2 linked regions of the Homo sapiens genome follow. The protein of the gene in region 1 binds, or shares a complex with, the protein of each later gene. Each region holds a gene or a part of one and is shown on either strand. Other genes may lie near its edges.

What was found. Proteins that work in one complex are often made in the same cells at the same time.
Region 2: NUP85 (region 1) and NUP153 share a complex: the UniProt entries of both Homo sapiens proteins name them as parts of the nuclear pore complex.

What each region holds. Positions count from the first base shown.
Region 1 is NC_000017.11:75,201,814-75,208,682, reverse strand, and holds the start of NUP85 (nuclear pore complex protein Nup85), read right to left. Parts: upstream 3,005-6,869; 5' UTR 2,922-3,004; coding exon 2,889-2,921; intron 157-2,888; coding exon 63-156; intron 1-62. UniProt on the Homo sapiens protein: Essential component of the nuclear pore complex (NPC) that seems to be required for NPC assembly and maintenance. As part of the NPC Nup107-160 subcomplex plays a role in RNA export and in tethering NUP96/Nup98 and NUP153 to the nucleus.
Region 2 is NC_000006.12:17,614,519-17,619,937, reverse strand, and holds the end of NUP153 (nuclear pore complex protein Nup153), read left to right. Parts: intron 1-3,242; coding exon 3,243-3,411; intron 3,412-3,756; coding exon 3,757-3,841; 3' UTR 3,842-4,901; downstream 4,902-5,419. UniProt on the Homo sapiens protein: Component of the nuclear pore complex (NPC), a complex required for the trafficking across the nuclear envelope. Functions as a scaffolding element in the nuclear phase of the NPC essential for normal nucleocytoplasmic transport of proteins and mRNAs.

The DNA.
Region 1 (6,869 bases):
TAATAAACAGAAAAACAACCAAATGTGCCAAGATGGATAATTTGGAAGAAAAAAAACCCTACCTTTTTTGTTGAAGGAGGTTTCACATACCAGCATCTCCCCTGGACCCCAGTCAAAATACATTTGGTTCTTCTTGGAATTCACGCCTGGAATCAACTAGTAAAATAAGGCATAGAAATCTAAAATGAAAAATGTTCTTCTTACTGAAGTTGTTCCATTCTTTTTTTTTTTTTTTTTTTTTTGAGACAAAGACTCACTCTAACAGGCTGGTGTACAGTGGTGTAATCTCAGCTTGCTCCAATCGCCGCCTCCTGGGTTCAAAGGCTTCTCCTGCCTCAACCTCCTGAGTAGCTGGGACTACAGGTGTGTGCAACCACACCCGGCTATTTTTTTTTTTTTTTTCATTTTTAGTAGAGATAGAGTTTCACCATATTGCCCAGGCTGGTCACAAACTCCTGAGTTCAGGTGATCCGTCCGCCTCAGCCTCCCAAAGTGCTAGGACTACAGGCGCGAGCCACCGTGCCCGCCCTGCTGAAAAACACTTTAAGTGAAGAGCACAGCTGGTCCTCTAATAACACTGTATCCTTCAATAACATTTCCTTATAACACTGGTAAGAAAAATTCATTTTGGGCCGGCAGCGGGGTGGCTCCTGCCAGCACTTTGGGAGGCTAAGGCGGGCAGATCATCTGAGGTCAGGAGTTCGAACTCTTGTTGCCCAGGCTGGACTGCAGTGACGCAATCTCGACTCACTGCAACCTCTGCCTGCTGGGTTCAAGTGATTCTCCTGCCTCAGCTTCTTGAGTAGGTGGGATTACAGGCACGCGCCACCAAACCAGGCTAATTTTTGTATTTTTTTAGTAGAGATGGGGTTTCACCATGTTGGCCAGGTTGATCTCGAACTCCTAGCCAAGCGCGGTGGCTCATGCCTGTAATCCCAGCACTTTGGGAGGCCGAGGCAGGCTGATCACGAGGTCAGGCTTTGGAGACCAGCCTGACCAAGATGGTGAAACCCCATCTCTACCAAAAATACAAAAATTAGCTGGGTGTGGTGGCACGCACCTGTAATCTCAGCTACTCAGGAGACTGAGGCAGAAGAATCGCTTGAACCCAGGAGCCAGAGGTTGCAGTGAGCTGAGATCACGCCACTGCACTCCACTCTGGGTGACAGAGTGAGAATCCGTCTCAAAAAAAGAATGAGGCCAGGCGCAGTGGCTCACACTTGTAATCCCAGCACTTTGGGAGACTGAGGCCGGCAGATCACCTGAGGTCAGGAGTTCCAGACCAGCCTGACCAACATGGAGAAACCTCGTCTCTACTAAAAAAATACAAAATTAGCCGGGCATGGTGGCACATGCCTGCAATCCCAGCTACTCAGGAGGCTGAGGCAGGAGAATTGCTTGAACCTGGGAGGCGGAGGTTGCAGAGAGCCGAGACCGCACCACTGCACTCTAGCCTGGGCGACAAGAGGGAAACTCCGCCTCAAGAGAAAAAAAAAAGAAGGCCACATATCTCCCCAGAGAGCTTCCCTCACAAATTGCTCACAAGGAAATTCCTTGTGAGCCTCTAAAATTTTCAGGATACACATCGCCCCTATAAACTAGTCCTAAAATCAAGATCTGTTGATTCTGACAATGTCAACTACCAGCTTATCTTCACAAGTAAAAGACCAGAAATCGGCCGGGTGCGGTGGCTCACGCCTGTAATCCCAGCACTTTGGGAGGCCGAGGTGGGCGGATCACGAGGTCAGGAGATTGAGACCATCCTGGCCAACACGGTGAAACCCCGTCTCTACTAAAAATACAAAAAAGTACAAAAAATTAGCCGGGCGTGGTGGCGGGCACCTGTAGTCCCAGCTACTCAGGAGGCTGAGGCAGGAGAATGGTGTGAACCCGGGAGGCGGAGGTTACAGTGAGCCGAGACCGCGCCACTGCACTCCAGCCTGGGAGACAGAGCGAGACTCCGTCTAAAAAATAACAGTAATAATAACCATAATCCCTCTACCTACCCTGAGATGAATGCATACATAAAATTTTCCTCTGCTCCCTCTTTTCACAGGTAAAATGCAGATTTACTGAGGCTAATCACCGACTCACAAGAATGTAATCATTTGCCTCCTCACTGCCTAACCTCCCTTTTTTGCCCCTCCTGCTAGCTCCTTCCTCTTTAACTAGTGATGTTCCCAAAACCATCTTTGGAAAAAGCACAGGTCTCAGATCCTCCTGTGACCTGTGCTTTTTCCCGGTTGGATCCTCAACCTTAGCTAATTAAACCTTTATCGGTTGAGACCTGCCTCAGTCACTTCTGGTTAACAAGAGGGAAAACAAGAGCAATCCAACTAGCAGAAACGGTAGGTATCTCGTACATAAAGCGCGTGAATTTTTTTTATACACATCACAGATCATCCACAGTTGACATACTGTCTTCAAAGTTCAAATGGAATTGAATGCACAGCGATAAAACAGGAATAGTCTCCTGAGATAATACGTTGAATAAACCTTAGGCCACACAGGCAGAAGCTCAATGTGCCGCGATGCAGAGCTTAATACGGCTGGAATAAAAATATAAATTCCTCTGCTTGGGCTGAACCCACTCTAATGCCCAAGAGGAAAAGCAAGGGAAGTAAAAAGGCCAGGAACACAAAGGAAGGAAAGGGACGGAGTGGGACCTTCGAGGCCGGGGTTTGTGACTGGTGGCAGAAACCCCGCGACCACTGCGACCCTAGGGCGGGCACCTCGTTAACACTGCGACCTCCGGAAAAGTGGCAACTGAGTCGAGGGAAGGGGACGAGCGCCTCGCGACCACTAGGGAAGCAGACAAGCCTGAAGTAACTAAGCAGACGCAGTTCTCAACCCGCAAGGACGAGCAAGCCTGTTCGGGGTACCCTTACAGTGACTGTTGGCTCGCCATCGAGCTCCTCCATAGCGCCGAACCCCAGGCTCCTAGAAGTCGCTCGGACGCCAATGCTTCCCGCTCAGGCCTCCCGCTCAGAGCTGGCTGCGAGACAAGACTCCGCCTGGGCGTCTCCTGCAGCGCCTGCAAGCCCAAACCCTCAGTGCTGCGGCGCTGTCTCCTCTCAGCCACGGCCACCCCTCTGCGGTCCTCTGCACGCGTCCTTCCTTCCTGGCGTCGACAGCAAATCAGGGAAAACAGCGCCGAGGACTGACTGCACTCAGAGTACCGCGCTAACAGGATCAGGCGGCGCCGGGGACACCCTGGTGCCGAGCGGAGAAAAGGCCCCCGGAGACGGCGGGAGGGGCAGGAGGACCCCGGGGCTGGAGACGGTGCGAATGCGCGTGCGTAGGCTGGGGCGGCGGCACTTGGGTGGGAACTCGTGCGGGATTTAGGTCCCAGTAAGCGTACAACGTCTCCCAACTCTGGGAGTCCTCGCTACATCCCGGTCTCCACCTTAGTGTCGTCGCAGCCACTTGTCCAAACCCCGACAGTCAAACGGGCTTGTGCTGGAAAGCAATCGCCTCCACTTCCACACTAGAACACACACAAGAGGCACGGGAACAAAATCGATACCCCTGAAGGCCCGGCGCTGTGGCTCAAGCCTCTAATCCCAACACTTTGGCAGCCCAAGGTGGGTGGATCACTGGAGTTCAGGAGTTCAAGACCAGTCTGGCCAATATGATGAAACCTCGTCTCTACTAAAAATATAAAAAATTAGACGGGCGTGGTGGCGGACACCTGTAATTCCAGCTACTCGGAAGGCTGAGGCAAGAGAATTGTTCCAACCCGGGAGGTGGAGGTTGCATTGAGCCAAGATCGCACCACTGCACTCCAGCCTGGGAGACAGAGCGAGACTCCGTCTCAAAAAAAAAAAAAAAAATTAGCTGTGCTTGGTAGCGCGCGCCTGTAATCCCAGCACTCCGGGACGCCGAGGTGGTTGGATCACCTGAGGTCAGGAGTTCAAGACCAGCCTGGACAACATGGCGAAACCCCGTCTCTACTGAAAATACAAAAATTAGCCGGGAGTGGTGGCGGACACCTGTAATCCCAGCTACTCGTAAGGCTGAGGCAGGAGAATTGTTCCAACCCGGGAGGCGGAGGTTGCAGTGAGCCAAGATCGCGCCACTGCACTCCATCCTGGGCGACAGACGGAGACTCCGTCTCAAAAAAAAAAAAATTATTTTGCTGAGTCTCAAAAAAAAATTATTTTGCTCTTTTTCTCTTAATAAGTTTCCGTTATACCTCAAGTTGGAGTTATCGCCTGTGTAATTGAAAACTTTTCCAGAGTTAAATACAGTTTGAGAGTTAACCACTCTAGAGAGAGGAAGGGGAAAAGAGAGGGGAAGGAGCCACACTCTTTTAGAGAGAGGGGAGGAGAGGAAAGAGAAAAATAAGTTGTAAGATAATTGTTTCATTTTTCCAACCGTTTTCCATTAGGATTAACTGAAAAAGAAGGATACATAAACTACTTCATCAAAACCTTATTCTTAGAAATCTATAGAAAGGTTGAGGAAGGAAAAGGTCCATATATAGTATGCGTAATCAGTATATAGAACAAGGATAGGCCGGGCGCGGTGGCTCACGCCTGTAATCTCAGCGCTTTGGGAGGCCGAGGCGGGTGGATCACCAGGTCAGGAGAGAGAGACCATCCTGGCTAACACGGTGAAACCCCATCTCTACTAAAAATACAAAAAAAAAAAAAAAAAAAAAAAAAAATCAGCCGGGCGTGGTGGCGGGTGCCTGTAGTCCCAGCTCCTCGGGAGGCTGAGACAGGAGAATGGCGTGAACCGGGGAGGCGGAGCTTGCAGTGAACCGAGATTGCACCGCTGCACTCCAGCCTGGGCGACAGAGCGAGACTCCGTCTCAAAAAAAAAAAAGAACAAGGATAGCACTATTAGCTGTAGTTTTCCTTTTTCGCCCTTGTATTACTAAGCCTATTTGAATGATTGGGTAAAATGGTTGGTATATAGCAGTATTAGACCAAAGAATATTGCCAATACTTTTTCCTCAATGTTATCTAGCTCTTGGTCAGGCAATTTAACTACTTTTATTATCTTAAATGGCATTTTGTCAGCCTTAAAATAAAAATAATCAAGGAAATATAGCACTAAGATCTAACAAGCTCTCTCTCTCTTTTTTTTTTCTTTGTCTTTTTTTTTTTTTTTTTTTTTTTGTCTTTTTGAGACAGAGTCTTGCTCTGTCGCCAGGCTGGAGTGGAGTGGCACGATCTCGGCTTACTGCAACCTCCGTCTCCCGGGTTCAAGCGATTCTGCTGCCTAAGCCTCCCGAGCAGCTGGGACTACAGGCACACGCCACTACGCCGGGCTAATTTTTTATTTTTTAGTAGAGACGGGGTTTCGCCATATTGGTCAGGCTGGACTCGAACGCCTGACCTCAGGTGATCCACCCGCCTCAGACTCCCAAAGTGCTAGGGTTACAGGCATGAGCCACCGCACCCAGCCTGGTAAAGTCTTAAGTGGATACATTTCATGCAGCCTAATAAAACTAATGCTCCTGAACCGGGCACAGTGTACATTATTTAACAAAATCTCTGGCCTCAGCCTGGGCAACAGGGCAAGAGCAAGATGCTGTCTCAAAAAATAAAAAATAAAAAAAGGCCGGGCGCGGTGGCTCACGCCTATAATCCCAACACTTCGGGAGGCCGAGGCGGGCGGATTACCTGAGCTCAGGAGTTCAAGACCAGCCTGGGCAACAAGATGAAACCCCGTCTCCACTAAAATACAAAAAATTATTTGGTCATGGCGGTTGTGCGCCTGTAGTCCCAGCTACTGAGGCTGAGGCAGGAGAATCGTTTGAACCCTGGAGGCGGAGGTTGCAGTGAGCCAAGATCATACCACTGCACTCCAGCCCGGACGACAGTGTAAGACTCCCTCTCAAAAAAAAAAAAAAAAAAAAAAAAAAAAAAAAAAAAAAAAACTCTAGCTGGAACTAGTGGCACATACCTGTAGCCCTAGCTACAGCAAGAGGAAGGAGACTGAGGCCAGAGGATTTCTTGAGCCCAGGAGTTCAAGTCAAGGCTGCAGTGAACTACGATTGTTATAGCACTATACTCCAGCAAGACCCTGTTTCAAAAGCAACAATATGGCCAGGCGCAGTGGCTCACGCCTGTTATCCCAGCACTTTGGGAGGCCGAGGTGGGCGGATCACGAGGTCAGCAGTTCGAGACCAGCCTGGCCAATATGGTGAAACCCCGTCTCTACTAAAACTACAAAAATTAGGCATGGTGGCAGGCACCCGTAATCCCAGCTACTCCGGAGGCTGAGGCAGGAGAATCACTTGAACCCGGGAGGCGGAGGTTGCAGTGAGCCAAAACCATGCCATTGCATTCCAGCCTGGGTGACAGAGGGAGACTCCGTCTCAGAAAGAAAAAAAAAAAACAAAAACAAAAAAACAGGCTGGGTGCGGTGGCTCACACCTGTAATCCCAGTAGTTTGGGAGGCTGAGGTGGGCAGATCACCTGAGGTCAGGAGTTCGAAACCAGCCTGGACCAACATGGTGAAACACAGTCTCTACTAAAAATACAAAAATCAGCTGGGCTTCATGGCATCCGCCTGTAATCCCAGCTACTAGGGAGACTGAGGCAAGAGAATCGCTTGAACCCAGGAGGCAGAGGTTGTGGTGAGATGAGATCACGTCATTGCACTCCAGCCTGGGCAACAAGAGCAAAACTCCAACTCAAAAAAACAAAACAAAACAAAACAAAACAACACCCCACCAAGAACAAGAACTCCAACTTCTGACCTTTACCCACTAGATGCCAATAACATCCCACAATTGTGAAAACTGAAAATATCTGCATATATTCCCAGTGTCCTCTAGGGGGCAAAATCACCTCTGTTAAGAGCTGCTGGTATATATGTTCAACCGTAGAAGTTAGCTAAATAAATTATATCAG
Region 2 (5,419 bases), on another chromosome or scaffold:
TTAGTAGAGACGGGGTTTTGCCATGTTGGCCACGCTGGTCTCGAACTCCTGACCTCAGGTGATCTGCCCGCCTCGGCCTCCCAAACTGCTAGGATTATAGGTGTGAGCCACAGCGCCTGGCCGGATATGTTTCTATTTCTATGGAGAATGTCATTGGTATTTTTGGTAGGGATTGCATTGAATCCATAGATTGCTTTGAGTAGTATGGCCATTTTAACAATAATAGTTCTTCTGATCCATGAATATAGGATGTCTTTACATTTGTTTGTGTTCTCTTTAATTTCTTTCATCAGTTTTTAGTTTAAAAATATAGAACACTTCACAAATTTGGGTGTCATCCTTGTGCAGGGGGCCATGCTAATCTTCTTTGTTCAAGTTTTGGGTATGTGCTGCTGAAGTAAGCACTGAAAGAACTTTTCTCACAGGGTCTTTTAACCTGTTCCTCCTACCAGGCTTTCTTGGCTTGCTGTTTAACTGTGCTCTTGGGAAACCTCTTTTTACCATTCTTTTGGAGATTCCTTTTAGCTTCGTAGAGGAACCCGTTTCCTGGGTGTCATGTCTTTCCTGTTACTCCCCTATTTTCTGATACAGCACATCTTCCAGTGATTCTTGAGGGTTCAGGGATGGAAAACATTGAGGCCATACATCTCTGCAGGGATCTTTATTCTCTCCCCATGTTTGGTAAGATTTTGATTGAATATAGATGTAGATTGGAAATCATTTTTATAATTTTGAAAGCATTTCTCCATTGTAGACTTTTCTGGCTTCCAGAGTTGCCTGAAGTCTTGATCTTTGCTCTTTGGCCTGTTTCTTCTTTCTGGAATTGTTAGACTCTCCTCTTTTGCCTCCATTGTTCTGATACATCAGGATGTGTCTTGATGTGGGTTTGTTTTTATCGTTTGTGTAGGGAGTGCAGCATGCTCTTTTGTGAACTTCCATTTTGGGGAATTTTCCTGAATTATTTATTTGAAGATTTTGTCCCCTAATCCTTCCTTTCCTTCTTACCTTTTGTCTTTGTGTCATACTTTCTCAGATTTATCTTTCATTACCATTCTGTTGAGATTTTAACTTCTGCTGGGCGCAGTGGCTCACGCCTGTAATCCCAGCACTTTGGGAGGCCAAGGCGGGCAGATCACGAGGTCAGGATATCGAGACCATCCTGGCTAACACGGTGAAACCCCATCTCTACTAAGAAATACAAAAAATTAGCCAGGCGTGGTGGCGGGCGCCTGTAGTCCCAGCTACTCAGGAGACTGAGGCAGGAGAATGGCGTGAACTCGGGAGGTGGAGCTTGCAGTGAGCTGAGACCGTGCCACTGCACTCCAGCCTGGGCAACAGAGCCAGACTCCATCTTTAAAAAAAAAAAAAAAAAAAAGAGAGATTTTAACTTCCACTATTTCTTTAATTTCTAAGTATTCTTTTTTATTTTCTGGATGTTTCCTTTTTATGCCCCTCTGGGTTCCCCCCCACCCAACTCTCCAGTGGATGAAGTATTCATTAAAGATATGGAGTTCAGATTTTTCTCCTTAAAATTTTGTTTCTTTGCTGAGTCAGTTTTCCCAAAATTGCTTTTATTATTTTTGTCTCAGTGTTTCTTATTAAATACTGTCCTCAAATGCCTGGTACTCCTTGGCTACCTGTAGTTGTTATGAGTGTAGGACACGTAAATACCACTTAAATCCTTTCTACATTGATAGGGCTTACAGATCTTGAATTTCATTGTAGATTTATCTGGTTTATCTAGCATTATTTTACTTGGGAAAGTTTGGATGTTAGTATCCTTCATTCTTTTCACTTAGTCTGTCAGATACCCCAAAGAAGATGCATCCAGTCTCCTGCATGGAGGGTATCAGAGAACTTCATTTGCCAGTGTTCTGGGAGCTAAGATTGGGAAGATGGCTGGAGCGCTCGGTATTTTGTGAATATCGAGCTACACTTAATTCCTGTTTTCAAAATGATATTCTTGCCCTTAACTGTATGTGGTGTCTCCCAGTCCAGACACTTCTACAAAGACTAAAACACTAAACTTCTGTTCTGGTGCGGTGGAAGAGGAGAATTACCATCTTTTTTTTCTTTTTTTTTCTTTTCCTTCTGAGATAGGGTCTCACTCTGTTTCCCAGGCTGGAAGGCAGTGGCAGAGTCAGGGCACACTGCGTCCTCGACCTCCTAGGCTCAGAAGATCTTCCCACCTCAGCCTCCTGAGTAGCTGGGATTACAGGTGCACGCCACTACGCCTGGCTAATTTTGAAAAATTTTTTATAGAGATAGGATCTCGCCATGTTGCCTAGGTTGTTCTCAAACTCCTGGGCTCAAGCAGTCCACCTGCCTTGGCCTCCCAAAGTGCTAGGATTATACGCATGAGTCACTGCACCCACTGATAATTACCATCTTTGTGTTGGTGTTGGGAGGGATTGATTCTGGGTATCTGCTTCTAAACATACTCTGCCATCCTTTTTTTTTTTTTTTTTTTTTAATTCCCACTACATCCTCACTTCCATAGGTATCTGGAACCTAAACATTTTGGGTATGTTTGGTGTAAATGCAATTGCTTCTGTTCTTTCCCTACTGCTCGTTTAGTATCAACTCTAGTCAGCCTTCCAGCTTCTAAACCTATATCTTTGTAAAAATCCCTTGTTGTTTTAATGCACTTTTCAAAGAAGATAGAGCTAAGTGTATTTGTTGATTTCACTGTCTTTAACCATAAGTCCAGGGTGCCCTTTTCCCCTTGGTCATAGGTAAGTTGTGTGATTTGTTGGAGGTGTCAAGTATGTACTATGTGTCAGTGGAGAAAATAGTTTTCTTTAGATTAAAAGACCAGAATATTTTAATTCTTTGCATGTTTTTATATGTAAAGGTCAGAGTCTTTAATTTAAAAACCTATCATGTTGCGGCCGGGTGCAGTGGCTTACGCCTGTAATCCAGCACTTTGGGAGGCCGAGGTGGACAGATCACAAGGTCAGGAGATCGAGACCATCCTGGCCAACATGGTGAAACCACGTCTCTACTAAAATACAAAAAATTAGCCAGGCATGGTGGCACGCACCTATATAGTCCCAGCTACTGGGGAGGCTGAGGCAGGGGAATCACTTGAACCCAGGAGGCAAGGGTTGCAGTGAGCCAAGATTGTGCCACTGTACTCCAGCCTGGGCAAGAGAGCGAGACTCCGTCTCAAAAAACAAACAAACAAACAAAAAAACCTATCATTTTGCCCTAATGAAGTATTTCTGCTTTAACTATTGCAGGTTCGGCTTTCCAGTTTGGCAGCAGCACTACAAATTTCAACTTCACAAACAACAGTCCATCAGGAGTGTTCACATTTGGTGCAAATTCTAGCACACCTGCAGCCTCAGCCCAGCCTTCAGGCTCGGGGGGCTTTCCATTTAACCAGTCTCCAGCAGCATTTACAGTGGGGTAAGAGAATTTTTTATTGAAATGGAGAAGTTACATTGGTAAGGGTATGTGCATGTATATGTTTTGTTTTTAAAAGTCATCAAGATTCCGTATGGTTTGGGTAAAATTAAATATGTTCTCCAACATAAATTTACCATACTATAATTCTGGAGGATTATATTACAGTTTGAGAAAAAAATAACAGTAGCGTGTGTGTTAGGTGTAGCAGAAAATGTATATACCAATGTGAGTCTACTCCCCCCCCACCCGACCCCCCTTACCCTTGTGCTGCTCATGGTAAATGTTAGCATTTGGAAATTTTGCTCAGAGCATCATGTCACATTATGAAGTTTTTATTTTTCACAGGTCAAATGGGAAAAATGTGTTCTCTTCTTCTGGAACTTCATTCTCTGGTCGCAAGATAAAGACTGCTGTTAGACGCAGGAAATAAAGGTCACATTGGTGTTGTACTCAATTTTAACAACAGCTGGTGCCCTGCTTTCAGATACTGGATTGTACTTTGTGCTGGGGTTATCTGAAGTCAGATCTGCCTAAGGACTTCTTTAATTTTGGAATTTTCCTCCTTTCTCTTTCGTTACAGAAGCCCCACCCTGCCTCACCCACCCTTTTTTAAATAAATAAATAGCTAGACTGGTGACTGATTCTTCAGCAAAAATATTTTATGATCCAGCAGATTATTCACTGATTTGACATAGTCTGGCTGTACCCAGGAATGGAGCCTGCACGGTGAATGGCTTTGTATAGAACCTCTTTGTCTACACCATTATGTGCGCTGATAAGCGTTCATGGAACGCGTTGAAATTGTAATTATATCTGAGGAATTCTGTATAGATTAGAATTCTGTATAGATTAGAGAGTGTTGAAACGGATGATTTCTATGCTGAGTTTGTGCTGGTGTATGTGTGAAGTGAGTGAGTTGGGTGTATTGTGCGCTAAACTTTTCTGATAGAGGAAGCCTGATTAAAGAATGGTCCGTGCTAAGGACTTGTTAGATCTAGTTCACTCTCCATTTAATAATTATATGCTATTTCTATATTTTCATTCTCCTATCACCTGTCTTGCCTTTTTCATTATTTTATTATGAAACTTGTGTAAATACAATTTTGTTTCTGTACTTTTTGGCATAACATAAATCTGTGAACTTGAAATTTGAATTTTGTGTTAGAGATTTTTTTGTTGTTTGTTTAGTCTTGTCTCAGATTTTATTATGTAAATCCCATTATTCAAAGTTGCCTAAATCCATTTGGAAATCTTTAAAAAAAAAATTGGGGATTCTTAAAGTTGAATTTATTGGCTTTTCTGATCCAGTTTTGTTTGGACCAAAAACCAGTATTGTACAAAGTATTAAGCATATATTTTTATATTTACTAAAATGGACTGTGGTGACTTTGGATAATAAGGAAAAGTTTAATATTAAAGCCATGTTTATTACAGTATAATTAACATGTTAAACCATGGGATAAATGCCATCAATAAAAAATTATGACATACTTTTTGTTCTAGTTTTACCTCATAATGAAGGCACACAGTATTATTGGGGGGACTTTGTAAAATAAAGATTAACAGTGTCTCATTAGAAGAATACATTGACATGATTTAGACAACTCCTAAGAGAAAGGGAAAGTATCTGAAAGTATCTGAATGCACAACATATAGAAGGTACCCTACTTCTTGCCTGGTGCTAGGAATCATGCCTAATTTGCATATCGACTTAGGTACCTTTTTTAAAAGTTGAAAATACACACATTCATTTCTCTTTGTGCTTCTATCTTCCTTGGTAAGTTACTGGATAGTGTTTATTAAAGTTCTTGGAAATACATACACAAAAACTACAGTTGTCTCTTGGTGTGTGCAGGAGATTGTTCCCAGAACTGCACTCCCCCCCCCCCCCAGTTCTCCCGCCCCCAAACCACAATCCACAAATTTCAGCAGTGGACCCTGCAGAACCTGAGTATACCAAAAGCCAGCCCTCCGAATGTGCAGGTTTTATATCCCACGAATACTGTGT